Homo sapiens: one gene and its partner. The protein of the gene in region 2 purifies or fractionates together with the protein of the main gene of each other region. This does not show direct contact. Each region holds a gene or a part of one and is shown on either strand. Other genes may lie near its edges.

Evidence for each region. Proteins that work in one complex are often made in the same cells at the same time.
Region 1: the proteins of NLRP12 (region 2) and HSF2 purify together in Homo sapiens (affinity purification with a luminescence readout; one large-scale study listed by IntAct). This does not show direct contact.

What each region holds. Positions count from the first base shown.
Region 1 is NC_000006.12:122,415,883-122,420,151, reverse strand, and holds part of HSF2 (heat shock factor protein 2), read right to left. Parts: intron 3,932-4,269; coding exon 3,856-3,931; intron 985-3,855; coding exon 923-984; intron 18-922; coding exon 1-17. UniProt on the Homo sapiens protein: DNA-binding protein that specifically binds heat shock promoter elements (HSE) and activates transcription. In higher eukaryotes, HSF is unable to bind to the HSE unless the cells are heat shocked.
Region 2 is NC_000019.10:53,820,673-53,826,402, forward strand, and holds the start of NLRP12 (NACHT, LRR and PYD domains-containing protein 12), read right to left. Parts: upstream 3,643-5,730; 5' UTR 3,503-3,642; coding exon 3,214-3,502; intron 3,206-3,213; exon of another isoform or gene 3,109-3,205; intron 1-3,108. UniProt on the Homo sapiens protein: Plays an essential role as an potent mitigator of inflammation. Primarily expressed in dendritic cells and macrophages, inhibits both canonical and non-canonical NF-kappa-B and ERK activation pathways.

The sequences.
Region 1 (4,269 bases), on a different chromosome or scaffold from region 2:
TGTTTAGAAGTAGAGGCCTGAAAACCAGAAGAATATGCAGTTCAGTGAAGCAAACATACAATGAATTTAAACTCCCTCTATTAACTTACCCAAACACACACACATGCACACTCACTTAATAATGAATAAAAAATTTCAGTAACAATAAATAAACTTAAAAATGATTACATCTTAGGAACAGAAACTGCTGGATGAGAATATCTAGGACTTTCAGTTCTCCACTTTTCTACACTCTTTTTGTTATAATAAGCTATTCTCTCCAGTTATACTTCATTGCTTACCGAACCACACAACTCTATGAACTGTATTTATATAGAAAAAAATAGATAATATCATAAGAACTAATTAGTGGAAGTAGTTAAGGCCATAAAGCTCTGATCATAATCAAGTTTTTCCCAAATCTTAGTGTTACAGATCATTTTTTCCTTCCAACTATTCCTTTTGTCCATTATTCTTCTAATGTTTTAGCTGTGACAATAGTAGCTACTGACATTTACAGGTATCACAACCCATGGCTGAGATACAGATTTAAAAAGACTATGAGTGGCTTAAACTAAGAGAGGTCAAGTAAAACAAATTTTCATTTTTTTTTTAACATATGGCCTCTTTTTAAAAATTTCCTTCACTCAGGCCTTCTAATGCTACTTTAATAATGTGAATGAAAAGTGAATATTTTGTATTAACTGTATGTATGTCTATAAAGTGACCATTTAGGCTACCCTTATCTCTCACAAACATCAGCAGAATGATAAAACTAAAAAATAATACTACTCTAGAGATTTTAAGAGTATAATTTAACAAAGGAGAATTGTTCTTTTTGGACAACAAGCACATACTCAGCAAGTGTAGGCTACTCATGGTTAAACACTAAAAAGTGTGACTGCCTATATACAGGACATAATACTTTATCATAAAAACTTACCTTTTACGTTTTAAACTCACAAGTTGGTTATTTTGAACCAATGTAACAATAAACTGGACAATCTGAAAAAAATATAAACAAAAATTATTTCATTATACTGTTAATTCTTTTGTCTCTATTACCAAGTCTTATAAAACAAATTCATATAATAATTTGTCCTCTAAGTCTCATAATTTCTCACATATTAACACTTGAAATCCAGACGCACCGTAGAACCACCGTCTAAAGAAACATACCAGCTTCCAGGCAGTTTATTTGTTTTGGTGATAAGTACCAAACTTGCCTGGCTATAGATCCCAACTTTTTTACTTCAAGTACTTTGAAGATTACACTACGGTGCAAAAGAGAAAACTGGTGTTTGATAGGCAACATTTTTCTTATACCAGGTAACAGAGGCAAAATAAACCGTCAGTTCCTTCAGAATAATCATGAAATTTTCGAGTTAGAAAAAGGTGATGGGCCAGGCGTGGTGGCTCATGCCTGTAATCCCAACACTTTGGGAAGCCTAGGTAGGAGGATTGCTTCAGCCCAGGAGTCGGAGACCAGCCTGGGCAACATCGTGATGCTCCATTTCTAAACAAACAAACTCTGCTTGCAACCAAAGAAAAAAAAGAAAAAGATAAAAGTTTATTGTCTGATTCTATAAAGATTAATGTTGAGACCTATCTGTCAAAACTTCCTACTGACAAGGGAAGCTAATCTTTAATATTTAATTAAATTTAGAGAGAAAATTGTGAAGACACACAAACAAGCTTTCATATCTTATAGTAGTGTTTCTTAAAGTGTGGCCCATAATACCAGGAACACTAGCTTAGGAACTTTGGATATGTTAAATTCTCAATCCTACTACAGAACTGCTGAATCTGAAATTCGGATCATGGGATCCAGTATGTTTAGAAAACCCTTTAGTGTAGACTGGATACTGATGTGAGTATAAGAACTACTGGCTTAGAGTATGTCTTGAAATTACATTGCCAACTTCCTAAAGGTGCTATAAAAGGTGAGGATCATATGGTAAACTATAAAAAGTAGTATATCACTGAGAAGCTATGAATAAAAGCCAAAATTGATTGGAGCACTATTTAGACTCTGTGCAGAAAGTGTGCTTATAAGCTTTGTGAAGTTACATGATTAAATAGAGTATTATCAATTAAAAATATCTATTGTACAGGTTCTAACAGTGAGCATTTCCTTACAAAAAAGGCTACTAAATGGTCTGCCTTATAATCAATATCAATTTTTCAATGGAAAAAAATATAGACATTTTAACTGAAGAGGTTCATAGTATTAGAGTCTATGAAAAGGAGGGTAGACACTAAATTGCTTATTCAAGAGAAAATGTTAACAGCTAGTGAAAAGACAATATGTAAGCTTAAAGATATCTATGATACAATTCGACTTCAGTTTTTTTAATTAATAAATGTTATGGGAATATTCTAAAAACTTCAGGTTGAATTTATAAGAACATCAATCACTGGCTAAATTAAATTTATTCTACATCTCAGTTCTCTGTTGACACTTCTGGATCACATTACACAGGGATTTTTATCTGAAGAAGATAAGGCGTCTAACACTTACAGCATGTAACTTCTGTACCTGTTAAGTCCTATAACTGGACCATCACACATATTATTCTCAATTAATCCATGGCTGAGAGTAAATTCCAGGAGCAGAGTAAAAATTATTGGTTGTCGTCATGCATTATATAAACACCACTCACCAAAGCACAGAGATTCAAACTCAAATTTTAGCAGACAGAATGTTAGCATTCATGAAAAACTGAAATGTCACATAGCTATTTTATCAACTATTCTTGCTTTCAGGAAAAAAAAAATCTACACATTATAGAGTGTTGTAAGCTAATATATTACCAAAACACTGTTTCTGAAAAGTATTAACAGACTGTTTCCATAAAGTACAGGTTAAGGTACATCTATTGTTTTAAGTCAACTATTCTTAACCAGGCTGCACATTAGAGTTGCCTATGAAAGTTTTAAAAATACATGTACTTGGACTAAACACTTAGAACTGAATTCTACTACATTCAACCTTCACTTGCACACTTTAAAAAAAAAAAAAAACACAGTAAATCTATGTTGACTAGGCTACAGGCTGCAACTGCTACTCATCTCTGCTTTAAAGCCTTCTCCATTAGACCCTGATCCTGTCAGTCACAACCCTATTTTTAGTTCAAGGGCCTTCTAAGCAGGAGCAATCAGAAGCTCCCCCTCAAAAAACCTGTTGCTTAAACTCAGAGTCTAGTTTACTCATGAGCAAAAAATAGCTGCCTTAATTACTATGTTTCATCTCTTATTAGCAAATGAAAGCTGATATGCAAAGATTAAATCACAAGGACACAATGAAACGGAGGGATTCCAACTCCTCTATTAAATTTTCAGCTCAGATACTAAAATCTAAAATTCATTTTACAACACTATGTTAACTGCTTTTCTCCACAGACTAATAACAGCATACATTGAGAAATCATTTTCTGAACTCATAATTTGGTCAACTGATTTGAAAATATTTGTCATTTATCTTCTGAGACCTTAACTATGCCTTTTATAATAAAAACCAACAAAAAAAACCAGTAAGGCTATGTTTTCTAATTTTAAAAGAAATTGGTAGTGTATTCATTATGCTCATAAAAATAAAGTATTTCAAAATTGTTATATTAGGCAAAAGATCATTTACTAAAAGCTACTGAGACATTATCTGCGAGTATGGAATAACCATCTTTAGCTAGTGAGAAATTTTTTATTAAAAATGTGTAACACTTGGCTTAATTTCATTTCATTTTTTACTTCTATCTGTGCATCCAATATGTAAGAAACTAAGATCAATCACAGACACTCAATAAAGACCTTTTTGGGTCACAAACAGTACTCATTAAACAAATGCAAATTATGGTCCTGGGGAAAAGAGCTTCTTACCTTTCGAATAACTTGTTGCTGTTGTGCATGCTTTGCTCGTAATTCTGACACCTCCTTCCAAAGGGACTCATTCTCACTATGTTATAATTTATTAAGCAACAAAACAAAAAAAAAATCAATCAAAAAACCAGACCATAGTATCTTTAATTAAGAATACCAGACAACTGAACTACACTTGTTTTTACTATATGTATTTATGAGACCAAGAAAACTTTGGTTCAATTACATAGGAATGACAACTACCTTGACACAACTCCTGAATCATTCTTTTTTTAAAAAAAAGGTGTAGCTTTGCTCTGTCGCCCAGGCTGAAGTGCAGTGGTACGATCTCGGCTCATTGCAACCTTCACCTCCAGGGTTCAAGCAATTCTCGTGCCTCAGCTTCCTAAGTAGCTGGGATTACAGGCATGTGCC
Region 2 (5,730 bases):
ATCTCTAAAAAATAAATTATTTTTTTTTTTTTTGAGACGGAGTCTTGCACTGTCACCCAGGCTGGAGTGCAGTGGCACAATCTCAGCTCACCGCAAGCTCTGCCTCCCAGGTTCACGCCATTCTCCTGCCTCAGCCTCCTGAGTAGCTGGGACTACAGGCGCCCATCACTGCGCCCAGCTAATTTTTTGTAAAAAATAAAAATATTTTTAAAAAAACAATTCCACAGCTCAAGTGCCATCTCTGCCACTTCAGCAATAGCCTATATTTGCTGAGCACTTGCTACCTGCTCTGAATTGTGTTAAGCACTTTGCATGTATTATCTCTTGAGCTTATGCCTGAGTATAAATCATATTTTTTCTTTTTTTTTTTTTTTTTTTTTTGAGACAGAGTCTTACTCTGTCACCCAGGCTGGAGTGCAGTGGCTTAATCTTCGCTCACTGCAACCTCCACCGCCTGGGTTCAAGTGATTCTCCTGTCTCAGCCTCTAGATTAGCAGGGATTACTGGCGCCCGCCACCACACCCGGCTAATTTTTTTGTATTTTTAGTAGAGACAGGGTTTCACCATGTTGGCCAGGCTGGTCTCGAACTCCTGACCTCAGGTGATCCATCCACCTCAATCTCCCAAAGTGCTGGGATTACAGGCGTGAGCCACCGCACCCAGCTCATTGTGATTATTTTATGAGATAGAAGATATAATAAAAGAAATCATGTTGGCTGGGCACGGTGGCTCACACCTGTAATCACAGCACTTTGGGAGGCCGAGACGGCTGGATCATGAGGTCAGGAGATCGAGACCATCCTGGCTAACATAGGGAAACCCCGTCTCTATTAAAAATACAAAAAATTAGCCAGGCATGGTGGCGGGCACCTGCAGTCCCAGCTACTCGGGAGGCTGAGGCAGGAGAATGGCGTGAACCCAGGAGGTAGAGCTTGCAGTGAGCTGAGATTGCGCCACTGCACTCCAGCCTGGGCGACAGAGCAAGACTCTGTTTCAACAACAACAACAAAAAGAAATCCAAGAGTGCTAAGGAGGCACAGAAGTGGGGTTTCTGAGCCAGCCAGAGTGGTGGGAGCGAGGAATCAGAAGGAGTGGGGGAAGAGGAGTAAATACTTTACTTTAGAGAAGGTAGTGGCTTCAAGGTTTCAGTAAGTAATACTTTTCCAGGCAAAGAAGATGGAGAATATTCCAGGCAGAACACAGCATGAACAAAGACCAAAGGGATGAAATTAGAATTCTGTACACAGTCATAAAAAAGAACAAAATCATGTTCTTTGCAGTAACATGGACGCAGCTGGAGGCCATTATCCAAAGCAAACTAATGCAGGAATAGAAAACCAAAGACTGCATGTTCTCACTTATAAGTGGAAGCTAAACATTGGGTTCTCATGGACAGAAAGATGGGAAGAAGAGACACTGGGGACTCGTGGCGGGGAGAAATCTCACCATTGGGTACTATTACTATGTTCAAGTACCTGCATGATAGGATCAATCTTACTCTGAATCTCAGCATCACTCAATATACCCATGTAACAAACCTGCACATGTACCCCTTGAATCTAAAAGTTGAAATTTTTATATAGATATAGATGTGTGTGTACGTAAATTAGAATTCCAGATCTCCCAGGCTCAGGGATTAGTATGAAAGAAAAGGGAATTGGTGGCCAGGCAGTGGTCATTCATGCCTGTAATCCCAGCACTTTGGGAGGCTAAGGTGGAAGCTCGCTTGAGCCCAGGAGTTCAAGACCAGCCCGGGCAACATAAGGACACCTCATCTTGGCCGGGCACAGTGGCTTATGCCCGTAATCCCAGCACTTTGGGAGGCTGAGGTGGGTGGATCACGAGGTCAGAAGTTCAAGACCAGCCTGGCCAAGATAGTGAAACCCCGTCTCTACAAAAAATACAAATACAAAAAATTAGCCAGGCATGGTGGCAGGTACCTGTAATCTCAGCTACTCGGGATGCTGAGGCAGAAAATTGCTTGAACCTGGGAGACGGAGGTTGCAGTGAGCGGAGATTGCGCCACTGCACTCCAGCCTGGGCAACAGAGCGAGACTCAGTCTTAAAAAAAAAAAAAAAAAAGGATACCTCATCTCTTTCTTAATTTATTTTTGAGATGGGGTTTCACTCTGTTACCCAGCCTGGAGTACAGTGGTGCAATCTCAACTCACTGCAATCTCCACCTCTCAGGTTCAAGCGATTCTCCTGCCTCAGCCTCCCATGTAGCTGGGACTATAAGCGTGTGCCACCACGCCTGGCTAATTTTTGTATTTTTAGTAGAGACAGGGTTTTGCTATGTTGGCCAGACTGATCTCGAATTCCTGACCTCAGGTGACCCACCCGCCTTGGCCTCCCAAAGTGCTGGGATTATAGGTGTGAGCCACTGCACCTGGCTACCTCATCTCTTAAAATATATATACACACACACATATACACACACATATATATACACATATATACACATATATATACGTGTGTGTATATATATATAAATTCCAGATCTCCCAGGCTCAGGGATTTTATATATATGTATTTTAAATATTTATTTTAATAATATATGTATTAAATATTTAATATATAATATTTATTATTTATATATATTTATATAATATACCATATTTATATAATATAGTATATTTATATAATAAATATATACTATATTTATATATAATATATACCATATTTAATATATATTTAATAATATAATTATATACATATTTTAAATATATATTTAAAATATATGTTTTAAATATATATATTTAAAATATATGTTTTAAATATATATTTTAAATATATATTTAAAATATATATTTTAAAATATATTTATTTAAAATATATATTTAAAACATATATTTTAAATATATATATTTTAAAAAAATATATTTTAAATATTTGAGGCAAGGTCTCGTTCTGTCACCTAGGCTGGGGTGCAGTGGCAGGATCATAGCTCACCGCAGCCTCGACCTTCTGGTCTCAAGTGATCCTCCCACCTCAGCCTCCTGAGAAGCTGGGATCACAGACGTATACCACCACACCTGGCTAATTTTTTTTATTTTTGGTAGAGACAGAGCCTCACTATGTTGTCCAGACTGGTCTTGAACTCCTCACCTCAAGTGATCTGCCCTCTTCAGCCTCCCAAAGTGCTGAGATTACAGGTATGAGTCACTGGACCCGGCTGGCATTCTAGCCTTGCCTGTCCCGCCACCTCCTTACCCCTCACCAGGTCCTCTCTCTGTCCTCTCTCCCACAGGTCCTTCCTGTTTATCCGCTCAAAGGTGCTGAGAGCCAACCTCCAGGCCTCCTCTGGCCCGAAGTGGGTGATGAGCAGCTGGGCCATTTCCAGGGGACCGGCCTTCTCCATGCTTCCCCAGGGGATCTTGCCTTCTCCCAGCTCTGTCGCGGTCCCCAGGTATAACTTGAACTTCTTCAGTTCCACAGCCTCGAGTTCTTCCAAGTAGGTGGACAGGCGACAGAGGCCGTCCCTGCCTGCGGTTCGTAGCATGGGGGTGCCGTGAGCCCCAAAGGAGAGGACCTGGAGGCTGAGATGCTCCTATGCACGGGACACAGGGCGACCCCAGCACACCTTCCATTGCATCATTCACAGGCAGCGGGCGGAGAGGCTGAGCCAGTGGTTGGAGGAGAGAGCAAGGGAGGAAAGACCTTTTGCTGAAATAATGCTTTCTCACTCTTCAGTTCCCTCCTGCCCTGCCCCACTCACCAATGGCTGTTCTGGGTGGAGAAGAGGAAGTTCGGGGGGAGATTAAGAAATCCGAGGAGCCACTTGGCTGATGAAAAAGATTTTCACTTCTGCTGTCTCTTCCTGGATCTCTTGACAAAACAGTCACTCTCTTTCCGCTTTCCTCTTGTTTTCCTCATTTCACTAGTGTGTGTGGTAGAGTGTATTATCAAAACTGCGACTGCGCCTCTTCCAGGGAGAATTTTTTTTTTTTTGAGACAGAGTCTTACTCTGTGGCCCTGGCTCTGCGATCTTGGCTCACCGCAACCTCTGCCTCCCAGGTTCAAGCGATTCTCCCACCTCAGCTTCCCTTGAGTAGCTGGGATTACAGGCGCCGGACACCACACCCAGCTAATTTTTGTGGTTTTAGAAGAGACAGGGTTTCACCATGTTGGTCAGGCTGGTCTCGAACTCCTGACCTCAGGTGATCCACCCGCCTCAGCCTTCCAAAGTGCTAGGATTACAGGTGTGAGCCACCGTCCCTGGCTTTTTTTTTTTTTTTTTTCTTTGAGTCAGAGTCTCACTCTGCCACCCAGGCTAGAGTTCACTGGCGTGATCTCAGCTCACTGCAACCTCCGCCTCCCAGGTTCCAGCGATTCTCCCACCTCAGCCTCTCAAGTAGCTGGGACCACAGACATGCGCCACCATGCCCAGCTAAGTTTTTGTAGTTTTGGTAGAGACAAGGTCTTCTTATGTTGCCCAGGCTGGCCTTGAACTCCTGAGCTCAAACGATCCGCCCACCTCAGCCTTCCAAAGTGCTGGGATTACAGGCATGAGCCACTGAGCCCAGCCTCAGGGAGAATTATTAAGGACCTCACGTAGGTCTGCTATTTTTTTTCTGTTCTCTCAGTCACAAGAGTGGCATGAGAGGGACTTTGCGGTAGGCAGGATGATGGTCCCCAAAGATATTCATGTCCTAATGGCCAGAACCTGTGACATTTCACCCTACATAGCAAAAGAGACTTAGCATATGTGACCAAATGAAGGCACTTCAGATGGGGACATTATCCTGGTTATCTGGGCAGGACCCATGGAATCACAAGAGTCTTTTTTTTGAGACAGAGTCTTGCTCTGTTGCCCAGGCTGGAGTGCAGTGGCACGAACTCGGATCACTGCAAGCTCCGCCTCCCAGGTTCACACCATTCTCCTGCCTCAGCCTTCCGTATAGCTGGGACTACAGGTGCCCGCCAACACGCCTGGCTAATTCTCTTTTTTTTGTATTTTTAGTAGAGATGGGGTTTCACCATGTTAGCCAGGATGGTCTTGATCTCCTGACTTCGTGATCCACCTGCCTCAGCCTCCCAAAGTGCTGGGATTACAGGCGTGAGCCACCGCACCCAGCCACAAGAGTCTTTATAAGAAGAAGACAGGAGGGTTAGTGTAAGAGGAAGATGTGACTGGGTGCAATGGCTCATGCCTGTAATCCTAGCACTTGGGGAGGCCAAGGCAGGTAGATCACCTGAGGCCAGGAGTTTCACACCAGACTGGTCAACACAGTGAGGCCCCATCTCTACAAAATATGTGTTAGCAGAATTTATGAATTCTGATGGAAGAGCAAGTTTATAATTCCCTCTGTCTCCTGCATCATGCCAACTTTGTTTCATGCTCCTAATCAATTAAGACCCCTCAGACACACACACACACACACACACACACACACACACACACACACACACACAAAAGCCTTCATAGCCAGGCGCAGTGGCTCACACCTGTAATCCCAGCACTTTGGGAGACTGAGGCGGGCAGATCACCTGAGGTCAGGAGTTTGAGACCAGCCTGGCCAACATGGTGAAACCCCGTCTCTACTAAAAATACAAAAATTAGCCGGGCTTGGTGGCACGCACCTGTAATCCCAGCTACTTGGGAGGCTGAGGCAGGAGAATCACTTGAACCCGGGAAGCAGAGGTTGCAGTGAGCCGAGACTGCGCCACTGCACTCCAGCCTGGGCAACAGAGCGAGACTCTGTCTCAAAAAAAGAAAAAAAAAATTAG